2 separate regions of the Homo sapiens genome follow, and region 2 is linked to region 1. The links come from fine-mapping of genetic effects on gene expression. A gene starts in region 1. The other region holds a variant in brackets. All regions are shown on one strand. Distances are between the middles of the regions.

Evidence for each region. PIP is the estimated chance that this variant, and not a neighbour inherited with it, causes the effect.
Region 2: its variant is the best candidate, but not a certain one, in a credible set for the expression of RAB22A in skeletal muscle (GTEx, PIP 0.55).

The regions. Positions count from the first base shown.
Region 1 is chr20:58,306,868-58,312,244 of GRCh38, reverse strand. It overlaps RAB22A (RAB22A, member RAS oncogene family), which reads right to left and starts at 2,530. Exons shown (of 7, transcript NM_020673.3): 1 at 2,233-2,530; 2 at 1,123-1,202. The coding sequence starts at 2,268. It also overlaps the pseudogene PPP4R1L. RefSeq lists silencers at 2,132-2,461, 2,502-3,061.
Region 2 is chr20:58,365,241-58,370,617 of GRCh38, reverse strand. RAB22A (RAB22A, member RAS oncogene family) reads right to left here. Exons shown (of 7, transcript NM_020673.3): 7 at 3,111-5,377. Among named protein-coding and RNA genes, the nearest start is that of VAPB, 21 kb to the left of the region's middle. The variant C/T (reference allele first, on the strand shown) is at 3,154.

The sequences.
Region 1 (5,377 bases):
GGCAGCTCATGCCTGTAACCCCAGCACTTTGAGAGGTTGAGGTGGGCAGATCACCTGAGGTTAGGAGTTCGAGACCAGCATGGCAAACACGGTGAGACCTTGTCTCTACTAAAAATACAAAATTAGCTGGGCATGGTGGTGGGCGCCCATAATTCCAGCTACTCAGGAGGCTGAGGCAGGAGAATCGCTTGAACCCGGGAGGCAGAGGTTGCAGTGAGCCAAGATTGCGCCATTGCACCGCAGCCTGGGCAAAAAGAGCGAAACTCTGTCTCAAAAAAATCCATAAATAACCTCTGACAGCAGGAGCTCATAATTTCTCAGGGGACAATCTTATGGCAGTTTCTCTCCTGGGCTGTAAAATATTTCTCTATTAGTCAAAGAATGATCTGCATGGAGCACAAAGGCCAATTTTATCCTAATGATGGATAACATAGATTTTTTCTTTAAATGCTGGAAACCATTTGAGGGTTTGATGATTAAAACTAGAGCACAGCACCTATTTAGTTTTATAAGGTTAACATAATATTAAAGCCTATAAAACACAACTTCTTATGTAGTCAAAGGATTAGTATTGCAAAATGAAAAGTTTTCTTATAGCGTCAAAAACATATGAACAATCAACTTTACTTATCCATAGAACCAGAGAACTGAAAAAACCTTCCATTTCAATATGAATTTATTAATTTATTATTACTACCAGTACAGGAATGTGTAAGGGTTCAGATCTCAACCTACTACTTTCAGGAAGGACAAAAACCATTTAAATGTCTTTTACTTGATATGCCTGAAAGAATAGCACCAGGATCTATTTTCATCTGCCTTATTTCAAGGTGTAATTGCTGTTGATATTTATAGACCGAAGCTTCTGTGTCTGTTCTAATAATTAGTAGAACTCCAATTCATATTTGCATTTTGAAGTTCTCACCCCCAACAAGTCCGAAGATAATTTTCCTAAAATACACAGATCCTCACTGGACTCTTTCAAGTCCTTCCAGAGATGATGCGAACCAGCGACTCAGAATTCAATGACTACAAAGCGCAGGGCCTACACCTGTAACACACTATGTATTTGGAAGGATTTTCAATGCACCTTTAGATGTGTATCAAATAAAAGTCTCTTACCCTATTGTTGGGTTGATGTTTGGATCAAAACTGTCTTCCACAAACCGCCACACAATACTCGATTTACCTACACCTGTATCCTGAAAGAGAACGAGATGAGGGACTGAGAAAAAGTTTACCTTTTGGCAGACACCAAAAACTACTTTGTGGCATAAGTTCAGGATTTTAGAAAAATCACCCTAGACGTGTAAATTTTATAAACGGAGGAACACAAAAGCGGTTGTCATAAAAATTCAGTAGAGTAATTAGGAAATTCCAACTGTACTAAAAGGGAGAGGTTTTTGCCGTTAAGACAGATTAGGACCTTTTGAGAGACCCAAAGTTTCTGCTTCGTGTAAAAAGTAACAAGTCCACTTGCTTTTTAACATATGTTAGTAAACTTTGAACTCCTGAGTTACCTCTGAGTAATCCCTGATGAATCCTAGCCCCACCCTATTTGGGGGAATAAAGATTAGTTATTGGAGTTCCTGCCGATCTTTAAGGCAGAAACTCTGGAATGACAGCATCAATTTCAGAAAGAAGGCTTTGAAATGGCCAACACCTTGTCTTTCCTGACAAGACAGGAAGCTGAAGCTTCAAACTAGTCTTTGGGGCTTCCTGATTTGAACACCCCTTTTCTCCACAGGAAGAGTTACTTGGCAAAGTAACTCTTTGGACAAGTGGCAGGGGTATCCCACAAGTTCAAAAACACCCAAGAGACAAAGTAGGCTAATGCTGCTTGTAAAACCTAAAGACCTGTTATTGGTTTTACTTTGGAAGACTTGGCCAACTCCCAACTAATACCTTGGTAAGTTGGGAGAAAACTATTTAAGAACCTCTCTTAACCCAGATGCAATAGAGAGGCAAGGGGGGGCTGTTTGCTCTTTGTGGGGCGGGAAGAGTCCACGGGCTCCAGGGAGGGGAAGGGGAAGGGTCCCTTCGGCCTCCAGGACCTTTTCGAGAGTGCAAGAGGTGGGCGGGACGGCTCCCGAGCTGGAGGGAGGGTCCACGGGGCTGGCAGACAGCGTCTTGGACGTGGGAGGGGGGAAGGGATGAGGGGACAGGGGGGATCCGGGGTCCCCGCCAGCCCAGCCTCCCGTGGCCCTCCCGGCCGGACCCGCCGCCACTCACCCCGAGCAGACACACTTTGAGCTCCCTCAGCGCCATGGCCCGGGAGCCAGGGGCGCGGGCCCGCCGCCGCCCTAAGTTGAGAAGGGAGAGGCCAGGCCCAGCAAGAGCATCCCCTGGCGCCGCTGCCGCCGCACGGCCCAGCCCCGGTCCGCGCAGAGGCGGCTGCCGCCCGTCCTCCGGCCGTAGGTCCGGCCTGTCCGCTGCCAGCCGCGTGGGGCCCGCCTTAGCAGCCGGGACGCCGCCGCGGCCTTCCGGGAGCCGCCGCCGCCGCCATCTTGGGACGCCGGCCGCGTCACCTGACCTCCCCGCCCACCTCGGCAGCCACCTTCGCTGAGAGGGCGGGGCCGGCCGGCCGGCGCGGATCGGGGGCGGGGCCCGAAGCCGACGGCCCCGCCCCTGTCTGCAGGGCCCCGCCCCTGTCTGCAGGGCCCCGCCCCTGTCTGCAGGGCCCCGCCCCTGTCTGCAGGGCCCCGCCCCTGTCTGCAGGGCCCCGCCCCTGTCTGCAGGGCCCCGCCCCTGTCTGCAGGGCCCCGCCCCTGTCTGCAGGGCCCCGCCCCTGCCGGTCCCGCCTCCATGCCCATCCCAAGATGGCGGGTGAGTGGGGCTGGGCTCGGGGGATGCCAGGGGTGCCCCTCTCTCTCTCGCCCCGTGACCACCCCGCGAGGCCGAGGGGCCCCTGCCCGACCCCGTCCCCTCTCGCCGCAGCCCCCTGGTAACTTCTTGTGTGTTTCTTGGTTTTCAGAGATCCCCCTGTACTTTGTGGACTTGCAGGATGACTTAGACGACTGTAAGTAAGAGTTGGGGCACCCCTGTCCCTCCCTGGGACCCTCTCAAAGAATTCAGAGTGCACGAAGCGCGGGGCGGGGGAACCTCAAGCCAGGCACTCCTTGTCGGGACCAGAACAGCGGGACCCCCAACTGCCTAGATCCACTGGTGGCGGTCCCTCCTCCCTGGGCGGGGCGGGCTGAGGGTGGGAGCCCTTCCCTTCCCTCGGGGGAAGGATTTTTGTTGTTGGGGAAACTTTGGACTCCCTGTCACTTCTTTTCTTCCTGCGCCTGCAGCTGCCGTGGGATGGGCGGAGGGGGTAGTCCCAAGTCCTAGTCGACCCTGGGCGGGCGGGGGGTCCGCCACCTGGGAGGTGGGTGACTTCCCTCTCAGGGCCTTGCCCTTTTCCTAGGGACTTTTTAGGACTGCTGGGGGGTTTGGGAGGTCCCCCTCTCGGTGTGGCCGGTCACGGAGTTGCACGGACTTCTCAAGTGTCCTGGCCACAAGCCCGGCTCCATCTCTTATCCCATGGAGCCCATTGGCCCCCGCATTTCTTGGGTGGGACCCTTGTCCCTTCTTGCCCTCTTTTTTGGAATCATGTTAAGGGCTGGTAGCTGGGGGAGGTGTCATCTTAGAAATCCAAGTTCGCATTTCTGGTGAAGGAAGGAAGCGTTTTCTCTCCTGTCAAGAAACTTACTGAGCAGCTATTTGCTCTGGGGGCCACGTGTTGGGCTCCGAACCTGCAAGGATGTGTTGAAAACAGCTCTACACGCAGGGAGCTCACAGGGTGTGGGGAGAGCCTACTTGTAAACAGAAAATTACCGAGCACCGGAGTGCTTGCTGGTGAAGAAGCCCTATATAAATCATCCAAATAGCTAACATTAATTGGGGGCGTACTGTACGCCAGTCATATACAGTACTTCCTCTCATCTTTCATTCCACATCTTCAGGTTTCCTAATAGTAAGAGTTGGTGTTTACTGAAAACTTACCATGGACCAGACAGCGTTAAACTCTTTTTTTTTTTTTTTTTTTTTTGAGACGTAGTCTTGCTCTGTAGCCCAGGCTGGAGTACAGTGGCACGATCTCGGCTCACTGCAAGCTCCACCTCCTGGGTTCACGCCATTTTCCTGCCTCAGCCTCCCAAGTAGCTGGGACTATAGGCGCCCGCCACCACTCCCGGCTAATTTTTTGTATTTTTAGTAGAGAAGGGGTTTCACTCTGTTAGCCAGGATGGTCTCGATCTCCTGACCTCGTGATCCGCCCACCTCGGCCTCCCAAAGTGTTGGGATTACTGGCGTGAGCCACCACGCCCGGCCCAGTCTTAAACTCTTTACACACATTAACTCAGAAGGCGCAGTTTCGGCTGGGTGCGGTGGCTCAGGCCTGTAATCCCCGCACTTTGGGAGGCAGAGACGGGCAGATCACTTGAGTCCAGCCTGGCCAACATGGTGAAACCCTGTCTCTACTAAAAATACAAAAATTAGCCGGGCTTGGTGGCGCGCGTCTCTAATCTTAGCTGCCCGGGAGGCTGAGGCAGGAGAATTGCTTGAACCTGGGAGGCAGAGGTTGCAGTGAACGCCACTGCACTCCAGCCTGGGCGACAGAGTGACTCCGTCTCAAAAAAACAAAACAAAACAAAACAAACCAACAAGGGGCAGTTTTGTTAAAGTAGCATAACACTTTTGAAGGGGTAAAGCAAGCTGATAGTTAAGAGCCCGGTGTCTGTGGAATCAGATGGCCAAGAGTGAAATCCCGTATCACTGTTTACTGTCAGTGTGATCCCAGGCAAGTCGCTGTACCACTCTATGCCTCAGCGACCTCATCAGTAAAATGGGCATTATAGTGGCCCACCTCAAAAGGCTTTTATAAGGGATTAAATGAATAAAGGATTTAGCACAATGCCTAGTATGTAATAAACAGTTGGTAAATAATGGCTGCTGTTACCGTTATTCATGTGATCATTATTAGTAGTTATTTAACACTGTTGAGCCTGGTACAGTATAGATCCAGGTTTACCCAGCTGAATGTTTCAGCCGATGGGCATGCTCAGATTGAAGGAGTTGTATCATTTCCGTTGATACAACGGATAAACAATGTTTAGTTGCCATGATGGTGCTTGTCATTCATAGATGTGGTATTTGGTCTGACTGGAAAGCTATTTTCTAGCTGCTTCAGTTATCTAACCACCCCAAAACTCAATGGCTTAAACCAACAGCATTTGATTTCCCACAAATCTGTGAGTAGACTGGGTGGTGCTTCTGCTTAATGTGGTTTCAGTTGGGGAAGTCCGAAATGATGTCACTTATGTGGGTGGCATAGGTCCTGGCTGTTGGCCAGGACTTCAGTTCTCCGCGAGGTGCCCTTTCCACTTGGCTAGGT
Region 2 (5,377 bases), 58 kb before region 1:
TTGTGGAAAAATAAAGCAAGGCTGTTTTGTGTAAGCATTTAAAACATCCCTGTTTGTTTTGGGTGTGTGCTAATTTGTGTCTTCCTTTTTGGTGTAGTGATTCCCTTTTTCTTTTTTCTTTTTTTTTTTTGAGATGAAGTCTCGCTCTTGTCCCCAGGCTGGAGTGCAATGGTGCGATCTCGGCTCACTGCAACCTCCACCTCCTGGGTTCAAGCGATTCGTCTGCCTCAGCCTCCCAAGTAGCTGGGATTACAGGTGCCTGCCACCATGCCAGGCTAATTTTTTTTGTATTTTTAGTAGAGACGGGGTTTCACCATGTTGGCCAGGCTGGTCTCGAACTCCTGACCTCAGGTGATCCACCTGCCTCGGCCTCCCAAAGTGCTGGGATTACAGGCGTGAGCCACTGTGCCCGGCTGTGATTCCCTTTTTCTTGGCAACAACAAATGGGACTGGCTTCTGCCATAGTACTATCTTGACAGGGTGTAGACTAATATTCTCCTCTTTTTTCCCCAAGTGAGAGGCACCTGCATATTCTCCTTCTTAACGGGTATTATTTATGCTCCCTCTATCCCCTATTGTCCAAGAGGATTTAGGGCAGCTTGAAAAGATATGTATTAAATTTCAGAATGAAATGAAGCGGTGCTATAAAGTTTTGCACACTTGCCCCAAATCTGGCTCTAAGGTTTTTACTGACCAAATTGAATAGGGTGTGTGTGTGTGTTTAAAAGGAGAAAAATAAGACAAATTCAACTTCAGTGTATGTATTGAGCCAATTTTCACTAAGGATTTGAAGACAGGATTAGAGTGTGAGAGTTCCTGATTTTTTTTTTTCTAATAAGAAAAAATCCAGCCAGGCGCGGTGCCTCATACCTGTAATCCCAGCACTTTGGGAGGTCAAGGTGGGCGGATCACAAGGTCAGGAGATCGAGACCATCCTGGCTAACACAGTGAAACTTTATAATACAGTGAAACACTGTCTCTACTAAAAATACAAAAAATTAGCCAGGCATGGTGGCAGGCGCCTGTAGTCCCAGCTACTTGGGAGGCTGAGGCAGGAGAATGGCGTGAACCCGGGAGGCGGAGCTTGCAGTGAGCCACGATTGTGCCACTCCAGCCTGGGCGACAGAGCAAGACTCCGTCTCAAAAAAAAAAAATTCCACACATACTCAGGGTAAAAATTTTAAAAGTACAGAAGTACATATACAGGAGAAAGTGAAAACCAGGTGACAGTTCTGTGGGCCAAGCCTCTCTTCTCAGAGGTAAGTTCTGTTAACAGCTTGGACTGCAGATCTCCAGACTTTAAAAGCAGAAAATAATAATATCAAGTGTTAGCAAGGATGCTGTGCAACTAGAATTCTTGCACACTGCTGGGGGGAGCTATATTGATATTCCACTTTAGTTTTAGAGATGGACTTTTGCTCTTGTTGCCCAGACTGGAGTGCAACGGTGTGATCTCGGCTCACTGCAACCTCCGCCTCCCGGGTTCAAGTGTTTCTCCTGCCTCAGCCTCCCAAGTACCTGGGATTACAGGAACCTGGCACCATGCTTAGCTAATTTTTATATTTTTAGTAGAGTCGGGGTTTTGCCATGTTGGCCACGCTGGTCTCAAACTCCTGACCTCAAGTGATCTACCCACCTCGGCCTCCCAAAGTGTTGGGATTACAGGCATGAGCCACCATGCCCAGCTAAATACACCATTTTAGAAAACTATCTACAAAAGCAAAAACAAATACAGACATTGAGAATGTGTGTGTGTGTGTGTGTGTGTATTTCTCATGACCCAGTAATTCCACTCCCGGGCACATGCCCAAGAGAAACCTGTACAAGCCTTTACACCAGAGATGTATGTAAGGTTCACTGTGGTCCATTCATAATGGCAAAAATCTGGAAATAATCCAATGCCTATCAATATAGACTAGATAAATAAATGGTGGTTTATTCACATAGTGGAATCCTACATAGCAGTGAGAATGAATGAGAATACGACATACCATGTTGGATGAAAGAAGCCAGACCCATATGGAACCACATGGTATGTATATAAAGTTGAAACCAGACAAAACTCATCAGTGATGTTAGAGAAGGAGCACAAGGTGGGGCACCTGAGGTGTGGCAGATGTCCCACTTTGTGATCTGAGGGTTGGTTATGTGGGTAACCTTCGTGAAATTTAATTGAGCTGTACCCAAGATTCATGACATTTTTTGTAGGTTTTATACTTAAAAACATAGAAAAAACAAAACAGCAAACCAGCAGACTTATAGCAAAGTTATTTTAACTGAATCAGAAAGTGATTATCAGGGAGATGGCTTACAGAAATAAACCCTGTGAGATGTTTGTGCTTTGTTAATGCCGTGTTAAACGACAGCTACAGGCATCCCACCCGAACAGCCACATGGGATAAGCTCTTATTACCTTCCCTTTGTGAAGATAAAAGAAACACAGGTCAGAGAGGTTAAGGGCCTTGTCTAGGGCCACATAGCTTGGAAAGATGCTCTGATGAGACTCAAATCCAAGCCTGTTTGTCTCAAGCCCTCTCTGCTCTCTCTGGTTCCCTCACTTGAACTTGTAGGTACTCTTTGGCACACCTACACTGTACAGGCAAATGTGCTTCTACCTAAGAGGAACAGCAAAGAGAGCACGGGTGTGTGTGAGCCAGTGCTTCTGCTGGCAATGAAGAGTACTGGGGGTGCAGGGTTCAAGTCAACACTGGGATGGAAAGACTAGCATCTTTGATGAAATCCCCATAATAATGGAAGATGAGGGAAGACCTTTTCTTCCACAATCTAGGGCACTGCACCGTTCCTTTCTTCCAGGGGCAGCAAACTTCCCTCTAAGTGCTCACTGGTGGCCTTGCTGACCTGCTTCTAGAACCCCCATCTTAACTACTGAAGAGCAAGGAGAGGGAGGAGTTGTATAAGATAAGGATATGGGAAGCTGGGAAGCTTCAGATACCTTGGTACAAATAACTTGCTGCTCACCAGACACTACAGCTGTCAAAATTCTGGTACTTCAGTATCCAAAGGTCATTTAAAAATGACTTCAGAGTATTTGGTTAAGAAGAACATATGATGAGTAATATCACAAAGAGAAACCATTTGGGAGGCAAATATATATTTGTAAACATAGCATTTTATTAACAAAATGTTTACACC[C/T]TTCTTACAACAAAACAGTGATTTAGCATGTTATACTCTATAAAAGTGTATTATAGAATATTCAAGCTAAAACAATATTATTTAAAAGTATGGCAAATCAACTTTCATTTGCAAACTATCTACTATGAGCATAGGCATGAAAACAAAAATCTTACAACAAAAAACAAAAGGTCTAGTTTTCTTTTGTCAGCATCTATAAACAATACAGGCATCATATGGTTTACATACACTTAGGTCCAGCCCAAGGTTAAGACTGCAAAAATAAAGTCTTCAAACATCCACAGAAGCTTGGCAAACCACCACTGCAGCATTCCATGACAGGTAACCAGGCCATGTGTCATGCAGTAAGTCCAAGGCCATAAATTTGGGCTGTTTATAATAGTGCTACAAAGCGGCCAAAACTGTAAGCAACTGAATTTTACTTTCGTAATAGATGCTTTTATAAAAAGGCACAAATATCTTATTCCTTTCATCAGGTCTTGAGAAGGCATGACATTCTTAGGAGAAAGAGAGATTGCTGGTAGGACGGCTTAGCTTTTTTTTTTGAAAAATGTCTAGGCTCATTGCCATAGCTGTTTTTCTTCAAGACTTTTAATTTGGACTTTTACACGCTTAACAAATGCTTTATTACAAATTCAGCGAAGTTCTGACCACTTATGTTAACTATCTTATTACCAATGGTAAAACAAAACAAAACAAAAAACCAAAACCCATTTTGTTAACTGGCCGTGTTCCCACGGTAAGCGAGCGCTGCTATTCTCTTTCTGAAGCAGCGGAGTTCTTCACCTAACACTGGCCTCTGTGTTTCTTATTTTATTTGTTTTAATGCTCTGGCCGGTTTTTTTTTCTTTCAAAAATGTTAAATTAAGAGTTGTACATGTCTTTGAGGTGCCTATGATATTTTGATACCTGTATCGAATGTGTAATGGACTGAATGAGGGTAACTGGGATTTCCTTCACCTCGCTTATCTTTTCTTTGTGTTGGGAATATTCTTATTCTTCTAGCTGTTTTCAAATATACAATCAATTATTGTTAAATGCAGTCTCCCTACTGTAATATCGAATGCTGGAACTATTCCTTCTATCTAACTGTATTTCTGTGCCCACTAATCAACTTCTGTTCATCCCCAACCCCAGGCCTGCGCATTTCTGACTGTGCTTGTTAGAAAAGCCCCAGCTGGAGGGGGTGAGCAGTCCCTGTTGCTGTGACCACGGAAGGCCGCAGGGGAAGGCAGATTACATATGCGAAGGAGGTGTCTGTGGCCATGTGTCTTTAAGGGAGAGCCCACAGAAAAATGAGCCTAAGGGAAATAAAGCGAGAAGTCTGCTTCAATCACAGAGACGGTAAGGTGTAAATTCTTAAGAAGGTCAGAGGAATGATTGACAATTATGTGAGTGACTCACAAAGTGAAATGATGGAAAGACTGAACTGCATGAGAGTTAAAAAAAAAATCTTTTCCAGGGCAATAAAGCTCTGTCTACACAGCGTAACGAATGGTTTAAAAATAGGGCCACCACTCACGCCTGTAATCCCAGCACTTTGGGAGGCCGAGGCGGGCGGATCGTGAGGTCAGGAGTTCGAGACCAGCCTGATCAACACGGTGAAACCCTGTCTCTACTAAAAATACAAAAAATATTAGCCGGGTGTGGGGGCGGGCGCCTGTAATCCTAGCTATTCAGGTGGCTGAGGCAGGAGAATTGCTTGAACCTGGGAGGCGGAGGTTGCAGTGAGCCGAGATCGCGCCCTTACACTCCAGCCTGGGTGACAGAGCGAGACTCCGTCTCAAAAAAAAAAAGAAAAAAAAGCCACCCATCAGTTGCTCTGACTAGCCAGCTGCCGATTAATTCACCCTGTAAAGAACTGACCAGTCCCTCTGACATCACGTGTATGAGCCACGTTAAGACAGTTTCACAAACTCTAATGTCATAAGTTCATATACAAGGTAAGTGAATATAAACAAAGTCAGTGCTGGCTTCAAAATTTTTCAGGAGTAAAACTGATTATTCAAGTATAAACTTAATTAAAAATTAATGGCCAAATGATACTAGGATTAAGCCCCAAAGCAAAGTCAAGCACCACCATGGGCATGGGCACAGGGACTACTCATGCCAGTGGGCCCCACTCTACTTGGGTGGCCAGTGGCCTCTGAATTGGCCTAGAGGAAGAGGTATGCCCAGCTCTTCTACAAGATGACGTTAGATGCTGAGGGGTTTCCTTGACAAT